3 separate regions of the Homo sapiens genome follow, and all the other regions are reported to be linked to region 3. The links are microRNA targets in miRTarBase. Many come from high-throughput screens and were not tested one by one. Region 3 holds a microRNA gene; each other region holds the end of a gene's coding sequence.

Evidence for each region. Region 3 holds the annotated microRNA hsa-miR-4255 (CAGUGUUCAGAGAUGGA, at 2,273-2,289, shown strand). A microRNA usually pairs through its seed, bases 2 to 8, with sites in the 3' UTR of a target mRNA and lowers its output. Matches are read on the target gene's strand: a 7mer-m8 pairs with bases 2 to 8, a 7mer-A1 pairs with bases 2 to 7 and ends in A, and an 8mer does both.
Region 1: the mRNA of ASB1 is a reported target of hsa-miR-4255. The part of its 3' UTR that is shown has no 7-base or 8-base seed match.
Region 2: miRTarBase lists H3-5 as a target of hsa-miR-4255. The part of its 3' UTR that is shown has no 7-base or 8-base seed match.

What each region holds. Positions count from the first base shown.
Region 1 is chr2:238,445,565-238,449,806 of GRCh38, reverse strand. It overlaps ASB1 (ankyrin repeat and SOCS box containing 1), which reads right to left. Exons shown (of 5, transcript NM_001040445.3): 5 at 1-3,423. The coding sequence ends at 3,296. Among named protein-coding and RNA genes, the nearest start is that of ASB1, 21 kb to the right of the region's middle.
Region 2 is chr12:31,788,175-31,792,408 of GRCh38, reverse strand. H3-5 (H3.5 histone) reads left to right here and starts at 111. Exons shown (of 1, transcript NM_001013699.3): 1 at 111-1,224. The coding sequence starts at 243. The coding sequence ends at 650.
Region 3 is chr1:37,159,301-37,163,542 of GRCh38, forward strand. It overlaps MIR4255 (microRNA 4255), which reads left to right and starts at 2,263; the gene lies at 2,263-2,334.

The sequences.
Region 1 (4,242 bases), not on the chromosome of region 3:
TTACTAAAAACAATTGTTCCTTCTCTTTAAAATTACCTGTTTAACAAGTACATTTTAACAATGTACTAAATTTTCAAATGTCAAAAGAAAACACCAAAAAACAAGCATTGTTGCCTTAAACACTTTTCTGGAACAAGGCAGAATATAAATAAATAAATAAATAACACGAGTGATGCAAAGAGTCACAGAATGTGGGTGATATTGATGGGTTTATCTAAAACCCCTCACCCGGGACTCCAAAGCTGAATTCTCAGAGTTACCAACGTTGTCCCCCACCCCACCACAGCCCAGCCCAGCCCATCTGTTGACAGCAGCCAAGGCCCAGGGCCCAGGACTGTTCCACAGCCACTGGCAGTGGTGACAGTCAGATGCTTCTGGGATGCAACCAGGGGCAACCTTCAGGCTCCTTCCCCCAGCCCATCGAGCCCCTCTCCTAGGGAGGACTCCGGGCCAGCCAGGCAGCAGCCTCACTGAGGACCACGTTTCCCTGTCCCATGGGACTTGGGCGCCCCAGGGCTTAGAAAGGTGATTTCCTAAAGTGCTTAGGCGGAAAGTGCTACTCTTCCTATTCTGTAACCTGTCCTTGCCAACAGAAAAAAAAGGGAGCTTTAGTGAAGGAAGGCAATGCCACTAAAACCCAGGAGGAATGACCTTAGCTACCCACCCTGTTTTCAGATTCATATTTGGCAGCTATGAAACAAGATACCAAACCTCCAAATTGTTTGGATTCTGAAAAAATTGGCAAAGGCTGGCTTGAACAGAGAGGAAGTTGAACATGTCCTCTGCAAATGAAAAGCTGAGACCCTAGACACCTGCAGGCCAGCCAGGCTGGGCCACAGGCCAGGGAAGGGCCATGAGAGGCCCCCTCCTCCAGCTCATTCTCTCCCCAGATACATCATTCCCTGGCCAGGTCTGGGTGAGTCTTCTCTGCAACGATCCATTCAGTCCACTCCTCCTAGAGAGACCAGGGGCAGTGACCTGGTCCCTCCAAAACAGGCCCTGGGCTGTGCAAAGGAGCATGACGCCCATGCTGCCACATCTGGGTCCTTGCCTCTGTGCAGCCTGAAGGTCACACCACCACACTCACGCATGGGACTCCCACGAGGCAGCATTCCCAGGTGCTGCTTCCCAAAAGGTTCAATAACTGAGCCACCTCCTGCACCGGGCAGGGCTGGGGAGGCCTCGTCCTTAACAGGCCCCTGCAGAAAGTACTCAGTAGAGCAGACGCAGAGCGTATCATGTGTCTACAACATGGCTCACCTCGAAAAAAGCCACCCTCCTCTGAGCCCAAAGGGTGGCAGGAAGAAGAGCCTCGAGGTGGGAGGAGCTAAACAGTAAGCCAGTAAAGAGCCAGAGTGCAGGGAGCTAACCAGCCTCCCTGAAAGCCCCTATCAGCCCTACCAGGGTGATGAGCCACTGCCTACGACCTCCAGTGACAAGGCCCAGTCCACGGTGGTGGCTCCAACTTCCGTATCATCATTCCTTAACTCCCTATAGCTCCTGCCCCAGCCACAGCCCAATTTTTGTCCTAGTCCCACTTTGGTACCACAAAGAACACGCCCACCCCCTCTCCCGGGCTGAAGCCCCTGCAGCACCCAGCCCCGGCTGTCCTGGCCCTCCCCAGCCGCTCACCACCTGCGGTTCCTCTCCTATCTTGGGAAGACCCTCCTGGCTTCAGCAGGACCCAATCCCAAGCTCCCCTCGGGAACAGCACACAGCCCACATTTACACAACCATCACAGCTTCTAACAGTGTCACCTCAGCTGAGGAAACACCTCCCGGATTGCATTTTCCCCTCTGAATCACCCGAGGACTGTTCTTCCCTTCGGAACTGCATCTGCACATACACGGGTCAGCTGGGGTGACCCACACAGAGCCCATTTGTGACACAAGGGGTTGGGGGTATAGAATTCTATCCTCTGGCTGTAGAACGCAATAATGGCCAGACACTGCCTGCCTGCTAAGACACACAGTGATGCTACTAAGTAAATAAAACGGTATCATTGTTCAAGTTTTACAAATTGGATTTCTCTTATTACAGAAAATCAAACACAGATTTGAAATCTGCGCCTTCCTAAATATATCTGAAGTCTAGAATCACCATGGATCCACACAATGGTCCTCATGGGCTTCAAATGACGAAATGTGATTCACTGGAAACAGCAGCAACCTGGGAGGGCTCTGAGGCTGCAGCCACCAGCCCACCTGCCGGTGACCCTCACACCTGGCTGTGCAGCCCTGGGTAAGGGGAAGCCCAACTCATGCAGCCAAAGCTATCAGCAATGATAACCCAGGCCATCTCTCTCCCGGGAAAGACTTCTGACCTCACTGCTATCCCCTGCATAGATTCTAGAAGCAGCGACCAAGACAAAAGAGAGCAATCAACCAACCGCCAGATGTTCTGTCCACTGGACAGCATGCGCCTGGAGGCTCATAACCACCCAGAGGACTCGCTGCATTTTTCACTTTCTGGTACGTGTGGGGGACAGAAGACAGCGCCTCGGGCATTTTCCTCGCCTATTAGAACTGGCAGTGAATGCTGTTGGAACGGTCCTTGGTCCCAAGGAAGGCAGTCATTTCCTGGGGAGTTTGGTGTGGGCCTCCTAAAATCAATCACTGGAAGCTCCCTAAGGTGAAGTGGCAGAAAAATCGTGACACCTGATGAGAGGCACAGTAGGTGTTGGAACAGGTGCCGTGCAGCCAGGAAACCACCCTTGAGTGAAGACACTCACTATGAGACCTCCATCGCAAAGAGAGAATACTGAAGGGGCAAGGAAGGGGCGTGTATGACAAGCGCATGTGTTACCCCAGGAGCAGGAAAAACCAACCAGCAAGTTCATGAACTGCATTTCTGTCCTCTATTTTGCTTACGAAACTCCCTTTTCATTGAGATACTAGAAGGCTTTAATCGAACCATCAAATTGAGAAGTAGAAAAATAAAGAGAAGCACAGTTCCAGAAGTGCTGGGAGTCTTCCCTACAGGGAAATTAGTAGGCCTCCAACCTCAGCCCCTACATGTACATACCCCATGGCCCGTTACATTAATATGCAACTGAAAATCCAGAACAGAGAACTTGGGAAAAACAATAATAACTTTAGTATAAGCCTCTCAGCTGACAATGACCCAAGGACTGTTCAGCGGCCCAGGCACCTGAGGAGCAATGACAGTCTACGAGGACATCTTCTGCAGCAACAGCCATCAGGAGACCAGCAGCAGCACAGCACTCAGGGCTCGGTGTCCACCTCCCTGCAGATCACTTTCTCCCTCACTGGAATCAACCGCAGCACTTGGAGTCTACTCATGGAGTAGAAACTTCTTTATGGGGTCTGGCAGAGGCAGCGAAGGAATCAGATGAAGCCGGTGTTTGCCAAGAGCTCTTCTCACAGCCACACGGCACAGACACAGCAAGGTTCTGGGAACACCTGAAGGCCGTGGGAAGAAAGAGAGGGATAGAGGAAGGTTCATTCTATTCCAGTTATAGAGAGAAAAGGCAGCTGGGACTGCCAGCCAGAAGTGCACCAATGCTCACTACCAACTTCAAAACGCTCAGTGAAACACAAAGTGATGGCTTTTCCTGATGGATGAGGAGAGCAGGCCCCAGGGAGGAAGGTCTTCTTATCTGCTCCTTCTGTCGCAGGAAAGAGCGAAACCTTTCCAGCCTCGTTAACCCAGGGCATCTGCTCCCTGGATCACAACTCGACCATGTTTAATGCACTAGAGAAAGAAATCAGAGTGGACCACTGAAGGCCCCAGCAGGTGCGGGCCGCGGACGCCCAGCCTCTGTCAGCCCCTTCCCTTAGTCAATCCCTGAAGCTCCACCAGTGCCTGGGGAACACAGGCTGAGCACTGCTTGAGGGGCACAGGCTGACGACTTTGCCCCCAATGAAAAGAGCGCAGCCAAGTTCTGTCTCGATTAGCGAGGAAGCTGAGGAGTGGAACAGTCCTGAACGCAAGCTGCTGCTTCTATCAGTACAGCTCCCAGCTGACCATTCATTAACTATTTGTGGGAAGGCTACACAGGAGCATGCTTTAATGAACTGGTTTAGGGAAATCCAGTAACAAAAACACAATGAATTTAAAGTCCTTTGAGAGGCAGGGAGAAGGAAGAGGTTATCAACTTGGATGTCTCAAGACCCAGACTGGGAGCGGTGGGAGGGGGTGACATGTGGGCAGGAGGTTAAAGACAACACATGAGGTCAATGTCTGAATCCCAGAGAGCCTCGGATAACAAGACCAAGCTA
Region 2 (4,234 bases), not on the chromosome of region 3:
CAGCCTGGGCAACAAAGCGAGACTCCGTCTCAAAAAACAAAACAACAACAAAAAACGAAACACCGAAATGGGCTTTGAAGAATGGAAGGGATGCAGATAAAAGAGAGGAGGGCGCAGAGCGGTTTGGTCGTTCGTTGGACCAGTGTCGGTTCTTCGCTCGCGACTGCGGCTCTTCCTCGGGCAGCGGAAGCAGCGCGGAGGTCGGAGAAGTGGCCTAAAACTTCGGCGTTGGGTGAAAGAAAATGGCCCGAACCAAGCAGACTGCTCGTAAATCCACCGGTGGGAAAGCCCCCCGCAAACAGCTGGCCACGAAAGCTGCCAGGAAAAGCACCCCCTCTACCTGCGGGGTGAAGCCTCATCGCTACAGGCCTGGGACCGTGGCGCTTCGAGAGATTCGTCGTTATCAGAAGTCGACCGAGCTGCTCATCCGGAAGCTGCCCTTCCAGAGGTTGGTGAGGGAGATCGCGCAGGATTTCAACACTGACCTGAGGTTTCAGAGCGCAGCCGTCGGTGCGCTGCAGGAGGCTAGCGAAGCGTACCTGGTGGGTCTGTTGGAAGATACTAACCTGTGTGCCATCCACGCTAAGAGAGTCACCATCATGCCCAAAGACATCCAGTTGGCTCGCCGGATACGGGGAGAGAGAGCTTAAGTGAAGGCAGTTTTTATGGCATTTTGTAGTAAATTCTGTAAAATACTTTGGTTTAATTGGTGACTTTTTTTGTAAGAAATTGTTTATATGTTGCATTTGTACTTAAGTCATTCCATCTTTCACTCAGGATGAATGCGAAAAGTGACTGTTTACAGACCTCAGTGATGTCAGCACTGTTGCTCAGGAGTGACAAGTTGTTAATATGCAAAACGGATGCGTGATATTTCTTGCTTCTCATGATGCATGTTTCTGTATGTTAATGACTTGTTGGGTAGCTATTAAGGTACTAGAATTGATAAATGTGTACAACAGGGTCCTTTTGCAATAAAACTGGTTATGACTTGATCCAAGTGTTTAACAATTGGGGCTGTTAAGTCTGACCATACATCACTGTGATAGAATGTAGGCTTTTTCAAGGGTGAAGATACAAACCTTAACCACAGTGTAACTTATAGTTTCCTTTAAAAAAAAAAAATTAAACCTGGCAGCTATAGAATACAATATGTGCATTTATAATAGCTATTTTATATATTGTAGTGTCAACATTTTCAAATTAAATGTTTTACATTCACAAGTGGTGGGGAGTCTTGTCATTAAGGTGTGTGTAATTTAGAGTCCAGTTGGTTTTCTTCTGACTGCACTTGTTCTCATAGTAGTAAAATGCTATGTGCATTTATACCTTGCATAAATCCTCATTCTACCACATGTTAACTAACCCTCTAGCTGATAATGGAAACACTAACTGGGGGATTTTATTTATAAGGGCTCTAGAAAAAAATATGAGTTATTCACACCAGCATCATCTGTTAACTAATATTCTGAACTAGTGCAGCTTTTCATTGTGTTGTGTGGTTGGTCTCATAACTAGGTTGAGTTTTCTCCTCTGCTAAGAGGAAACAGTACTGAAGTTCTTTTTCTTGTGGCATTTGTATTATAAAAACTTGGTGTAGGGGAGGAGCACAAAGCTCTAGCCCACTGAACCTCTGCCGGTTAAGATGGTGTTAGGTTAGGTTACATCTGGTTACTGTCCTGGGAAAATCATTTTTATAGAGATGGCCTTCCAAGTGGTTTTAAAATTTATCTTATTGAAGTTTTTAGGTCAATTATGTATGTTGACTAAATTTACAAATAAACTTGTTTATCCAAAAAAAAAAAAAGAGAGGAAAAGAATCAGAAATATTGGAGAGTAGAAATGCAACAGAAGAGAACTATAAAGTTTATGTTGGGGGAAAACAATTAGTTTGTCTCAAGTGTAGTATTTACGCAAAGGAGAAAACTTTAGGGATGTAGGGCCCACATTGTAAAGAGCTTGGAATTAGGATTTAAGGAATTTTATACTCTATCCTGCAAAATTCACAGACAAATTTGAGAACTGACTAGCATTTTAACTTGCAAAAAAAGACAAGTTAGTACAGAACTAGCACATCTAATTTTTAAAAAAGTATTTGAACTATAACATGGTGAAATCCCGTCTCTATTAAAAATACAAAAATTAGCTGGATGTGGTGGTGGGCGCCTGTAATCCCAGCTACTGTCAAGGCTGAGGCAGGAGAATTGCCTGAACCCAGGAAGTGGAGGTTGCAGTGAGCCGAAATCGCACCATTGCACTCCAGCCTGGGTGTCAAGAGCAAGACTGTCTAAAAAAAAAAAAAATCACAAAGTCAGGAGATAGCTCAGATTGTTATATATTAGTCAACAATTCTGATTGGATAACTTTGGGGTCAGTCTTGATAAAAAGAAAAACAGTATGTTTCTGTCTTTTGCATAAAAAATAACTTCACGGCTTATCTTGGAATTCAAAGCTTTTGAAATATTTCTGGTTTTCGTGGCTTATCTTAGAGTGCAAAGCTTTTAGGAATGTCAGCCTTTTCCAGACTATGGTACAGGATGGGCTTGATTAGTCGATATAGTGGGCATGATATTCGTTTTACAGACTAGAGTTCACACTAAATGGCCATAGGCTCCCATAGGGCCACCAGGTAGAGTTGTGCAGATTGTATAGGCTGTGCACTGCACAACTTTTTATGTTATGTGCACAGTGCCCTCTGGAGTTATAAAATGCAAAGTCGGCTGGACGTGGTGGCTCTCGCCTGCAATCCCAGCACTTTGGGAGGCCGAGGCAGGCAGATCACAAGGTCAGGAGTTCGAGACCAGCCTGGCCAACATGGTGAAACCCCATCTCTACTAAAATACAAAAATTAGCTGGGCGTGGTGGCATGCGCCTGTCATCCCAGCTACTCAGGAGGCTGAGGCAGGAGAATCGTTTGAACCCAGGAGGTGGAGGTTGCAGTGAGCCGAGATCGTGCCATTGCACTCCAGCCTGGGAGACAGAGCAAGACTCTGTCTCAGAAAAAAAAAAAAAAAAAAAAGCAAAGTCTACTCAGCCATACCTGGAAGCCTAGACGCCAGGCAGGTAACACAAATCAGTGAAACCTGGGGCCCTTTGAAAGGATTCCAGCAAATTTAAAAATAATGGTCAGAGCACTGTGGAGTTGTAGAAAAACAAATTTGCAGACTATGTTCAGCCTTGGAGCTCAAGTTTGGGACCTCTGCCATATAAGGTAGAGGCAGTCAATATTTTTGTCAAGGTAATGATGCAAAGAGATATGTAAAATAGATTACCATAGAGAAAAGAGGCTACAAAGAAATAAAAAAGTCAGAAAAGTACTTCAATAATCTGGGCTGAGGAAACAGGGGCCTGGCCGGGCCAGAACTATGTGGATAGACATAGAAAGAAAAGAATTAGTAGAATTTAGTGATCAGATTCAGGTTTGATTCTGAACCAAATCAATTCAGACTTGATTTCTCATAAGACAAAAAAAAAAAAAAAAGAAAGGGAGACCAGAGTAATGCAAGGTTTTGAACTTGGGTCCTTAGGAAAATACCTGGAAGAAAAATATTTACCTTGGAAATAATTTCAGATTAAAAAATAATCTTTTGACCGGGTGTGGTGGCTCACGCCTGTAATCCCGGCACTTTGGGAGGCCGAGGCAGGCAGATCATGAGGTCAGGAGATGGAGACCATCCTGGCTAACATGGTGAAACCCCGTCTCTACCAAAAACACAAAAAATCAGCTGGGCGTGGTGGCGGATGCCTGTAGTCCCAGCTACTCGGGAGGCCAAGGCAGTAGAATGGTGTGAACTCATGAGGCGGAGCTTGTAGTGAGCCAAGATCGCACCACTGCACTCCAGCCTGGTCAACAGAGTGAGACTCAGTCTCAAAAAAAAAAAAAAAAAAAAAAAACTTTTAGGATAGGATAGTAAAAATCATGTTTTGAAAGCTTATGTAATGCTGGCCGGGCACGGTGGCTCACGCATGTTGGGAGGCTGAGGCAGGCGGATCACTTGAGGTCAGGAGTTCGAGACCAACCTGGCCAACATGGCGAAACCTTATCTCTACTAAAAATACAAAAATTAGCCAGGCTTGGTAGTGGGCGCCTGTAATCCTAGCTACTGGGGAGGCTGAGGCAGGAGAATCACTTGAACCTGGGAGGCAGAGGCTGCAGTGAGCAGAGATCGAGCCACTACACTCCAGCCTGGGCAATAAAGTGAGACACCATCTTAAAAAAAAAGAAAAAAGCGCT
Region 3 (4,242 bases):
GCAGCTGATTGGAGGAGCCCAGGTCACATGCCTACCAGTAGCTGCAAGGGAGGCTGGGAAAGTGAGTTCTGACTCCTGTCTTGGGGAGATGAGATTCATAATGGGGTAATTACCAGGGCAGCCATCCATCCTGGTGTCTTAGGAGAGTCTCAGGTTTTGTCTGTTGTTCCACATAATGATGAATAGCACCCTTTTTATTCTCAAACGTGTTTTGGTTTAGATCATCAATTATAGAGACACCTTAATAATTCTCAATAATAATTTTGGGGCTCATATGTCCTGTTTTCTCTCCTTTTCTTATTTTCTGCTCCTCCTACCCAAGCAGCACATACTGAATTTGCTAAAACCCTTCTATTGCAGAGCAAAAGGGAGGATATTCTCTGTGTTTTCAGGGAAAGCCCACAACAGACAATACATCAGAGGATTACATGTTCCTCCTAGAAGAAGAAGGACTTTTCCATGTGAGGTGAACAATCCAAATGAAAATTCAGGGAACAAATAAAAAGATGACTATAAGAACCTTCAGTTGGTCAGTTTACTTGGTGATATGGCTTGGCTCTGTGTCCCCACCCAAATCTCATCTTGAATTGCAACCCCCATAATCCCCACATATCAAGGGAGGGACCAGGTGGAGGTAATTGAATCATGAGGGTGATTTCCCCCATGCTAGTCTTTTGATAATAAGTGAGTCTCAAGAGATCTGATGGTTTTATAAGTGTATGGCATTTCCCCTGCTTGCACTTCTCCTTCCTGCCATCTTGTGAAGAAGGTGCCTTGCTTCCCTTTCACCTTCTGCCCTGATTGTAAATTTCCTGAGGCCTCCCCAGCCATGCTGAACTGTGAGTCAATTAAACCTCTCTCCTTTGTCAATTACCCGGTCTTGTGTATGTCTTTATTAGCAGTGTGAGAACAGACTAATACACTTGGAGGTCCAGGTTGGGGCCAGCTCATGGAGGGCCTTGAATGTCAAAAAAAAAAAAAAAAGACTTTGGACTTTGTCTCTGGGAAATAGTCATGTGGAAGGTCTCTGAATGGGGGAATAACCTGACCCAGTCCAGTTTACTTGAAAGAGCAAGAGTCAGACAGACCTGAGTTTAAATCACGATTCGTTGTGTGGAGTTAGGCATAGAGTGGAAAGTTGCTGAACCTCTTTGTGCTTCAAATTTATCATTTATAAAATGGAGAAACTAAAAGCTCCCTCTTGAGATTAATTGTAGAATAAATTAAAATTTAAAGCTCTTGGCACAGTATACAAATCCACAGTAGATATGTGACACGTGTTAGTTGTCTTAGCTGATGTCATGGCAGTATTTTGGGGAGCATCATAGAGCGAATGTATGCAGAGCAACAGGAAGAAGAGAGAGGCTGGAGGCAGGGAGGCCAGTGAAGAGGCAGCCAGGCAGGAGAGACCTGTGGATGAGCTACTAGGAACTGAGTGAGAGGACAGAGTCAGGCTAACTCTTCTTGCCTGGGTATTGTCAGGCCAGTGGTGACAACCTCAAAGTACAGCATGATGGCAGGCGGCTAGTTTAGAGAAATTTGTAAGAGAAAGATGAGACATTCATTGCAAGACATACAGGATTTAAAGGTTCAGACTGTCATCTAGGAGAGCTCTCCAGCAGAAAAGCTGAAGCTTAAAAATTGTCTGTCCAACCCCAGATCTTATAAGCTCAAAGAGAAAGTGTAATGAATAATAACAGGATGTGCATTGCTGCATGCTGGGACCAAGCCACAGAACCTGTCATTGGTGCAGGCAGGAAAGGCTAAATACACACCTGGATGGAAGAGACCTATTGGGGTCTTAAAGGGCAGAAAGGGACATTTTCGGCATTAAAGGAGGGTGACATGCTTGATTTGCAAGAAACAGAAAACCAATCAAGTTAGCTCACATAAAGAGGGCACATTATGAAAAAGATCTCACAGAACAAAAGCTCAGAAGTGCAGCTGAACCCGGACTTTCTCTGTTCATCCCCCAGGGCTGTGTAGACTCTTTTCTCTCTCTCTCACTGACATTCTTGCATGTTCTCCCTTTCTCCTGGTCAGCTTCTTCCATACGCTCACCCAATATCTGGTTTAGTCTAGTGCCCCTGCCCCTGATCTCACCTGGCTTTTCAACTTGAGAGCCTACCACCAACTAGGAGAGCAGTTTCTGTGTCTACTAGATTAAGTTCCCAGTAACTAGAAAAACTGGAATCTCCAGGAAAGCCTGTGGGAAAGGTGGGCCATGGAGCCATCTAATGTAAGAGGTCATTGAACTTTATAGAGCATCCTTCAGTGTTCAGAGATGGAGTCAGTATTGGTCTGGCCATTTTTAGGGCAAAGAGGCAGCATCATGCTGGAAGCAGTAGTCTGCAATGCTAGGATGTGACTCCCAAGCCCTTGGTCATACCCTCTACATTGTATATACAGCAAGCTTCAAGGTGCAGAGATAAGGACTTGGGAGCATGTTGAGGGATCTGTCATGAGGCTGGAGCACTGAATGCTTGGGTGTTGGGAGAACAAAAGATGAGCCTGGAGGGATCAGCAGGAGTCTCATCCTGCAGGAGGTGGAAATTCATCCTGATAGCAATGGGGAAGCCATGAAGTCTTTTCAAATAACATTTTTATTGAGCTGTAGTCTGCACACCATAAAATGTACCCTTTTAAAGTGTAACATTCAGTGATTCTTCAGTATGCCACAGAGTTGTGTAACCTATCTAATTTTAGAACATTTCATCATCACTTCCAAAAGAAATCCCATACTAATTAGCAGTCATTCCTCATTCCCCCTTGCTTGACAGTCCCTGGCAACCACTAACCCACTTTCTTTCTCAGTGGATTTGCCTATGCATGACATTTCATATACATGCAGTCATACAATGTGTGATCTTTTGTGACTGGCTTCTTTCCCTTAGCATAATGTTTTCAAGGTTCATCCATGTTGTAGTGTGTACTTCACTCCTTTTTATGGTTGTGTAATATTCCATTGTATTGATATACCACATTTTATTTATCCATTAATCAGTTGATGGTCATTTGTGTTGTTTCCACTTTTTGACTGTCATGAATAATGCTGCCATGAACACTTATGTACAAGCATTTGGGTGAAGATATGTCTTCATTTCTCTTGGATATATATCTAGGAGTGGAAATGTTCTATTATATTATAGAGTTAACTCTATGTTTAACTTTTTGAGGAACTACCAAATTGTTCAAAAGTGGCTGTACCATTTTACAATTTGATTAGCAATGTATCAGGGTTACAATTTCTGCATGTACTTGTCAATCTTTGTTATTATGTGTCTTTTTTATTTTAGCTATTCCAATGCATGTAAAGTGGTATCTCGTAGTGGTTTTAATTTGCATTTCCCTTATGACTGATTATATTAAGCATCTTTTCATGTGGTTATTGGACAATTGTATATCTTCTTTGGAGAAATTTCTGTTCAAATTATTTGCCCATTTTAAAAACTGAGTTACTTTCCTTTTTATTATTGAGTTGTAAGAGTTCTTTATATATCCTGAAAACAATACCCTTATCAGATATATAATTTGCATATATTTTCTCCCATTTTTGGATTTGTCTTTTCACTTTCTTGATGGTGTCGTTTGAAGCATGAAAGTTTTAATTTTGATGAAGTCCAGTTTGTCTATTTTTTGTTTGTTTTGTCACTTGTGCTTTTAGCGCCAAATCTAAGAATCCATTGTCCAATCCAAGGTTATAAAGATTTTCTCCTGCATTTTCTTCTACAAGTGTTATAGTTTTAGCTCCTATGTTTAGATCTTTGATCCATTTTTAGCTGATTTTTGTATATGATGTGAGGTAGGGTTCTACTTCTTTCTTTTTGGCAAGTGGCTATACAGTGTCCAGCATCATTTGTTGAAGACTATTCTTTCCTTCATTGAATTGTCTTGGCAACCTTGTTAATAATCAGTTGGCCATAGATGTATGGGTTTAATCTATCAACTCAATTCCATTCTATTGATATACATGTCTATCCTTATGCCAGCCCTGTACTGTCTTGATTACCGGGTTTTTTTTTTTTTTTTTGTAGTAAGTTTTGATATCAAGCAGTAAGAGTACTCATACTTTGTTATTGCCTTTCAAGATTATTTTGGTCATTCTGGGTCCCTTTACATTTCATATGAACTTTAGAATTAGCTTGTGAATTTCTACAAAGAAGTCAGCTTGTATTCTAACAGGGATTGCATTTAATCTGTGGATCAATCTGGGGAGTATTTCCAGCTTAACAAAGCTTCTGA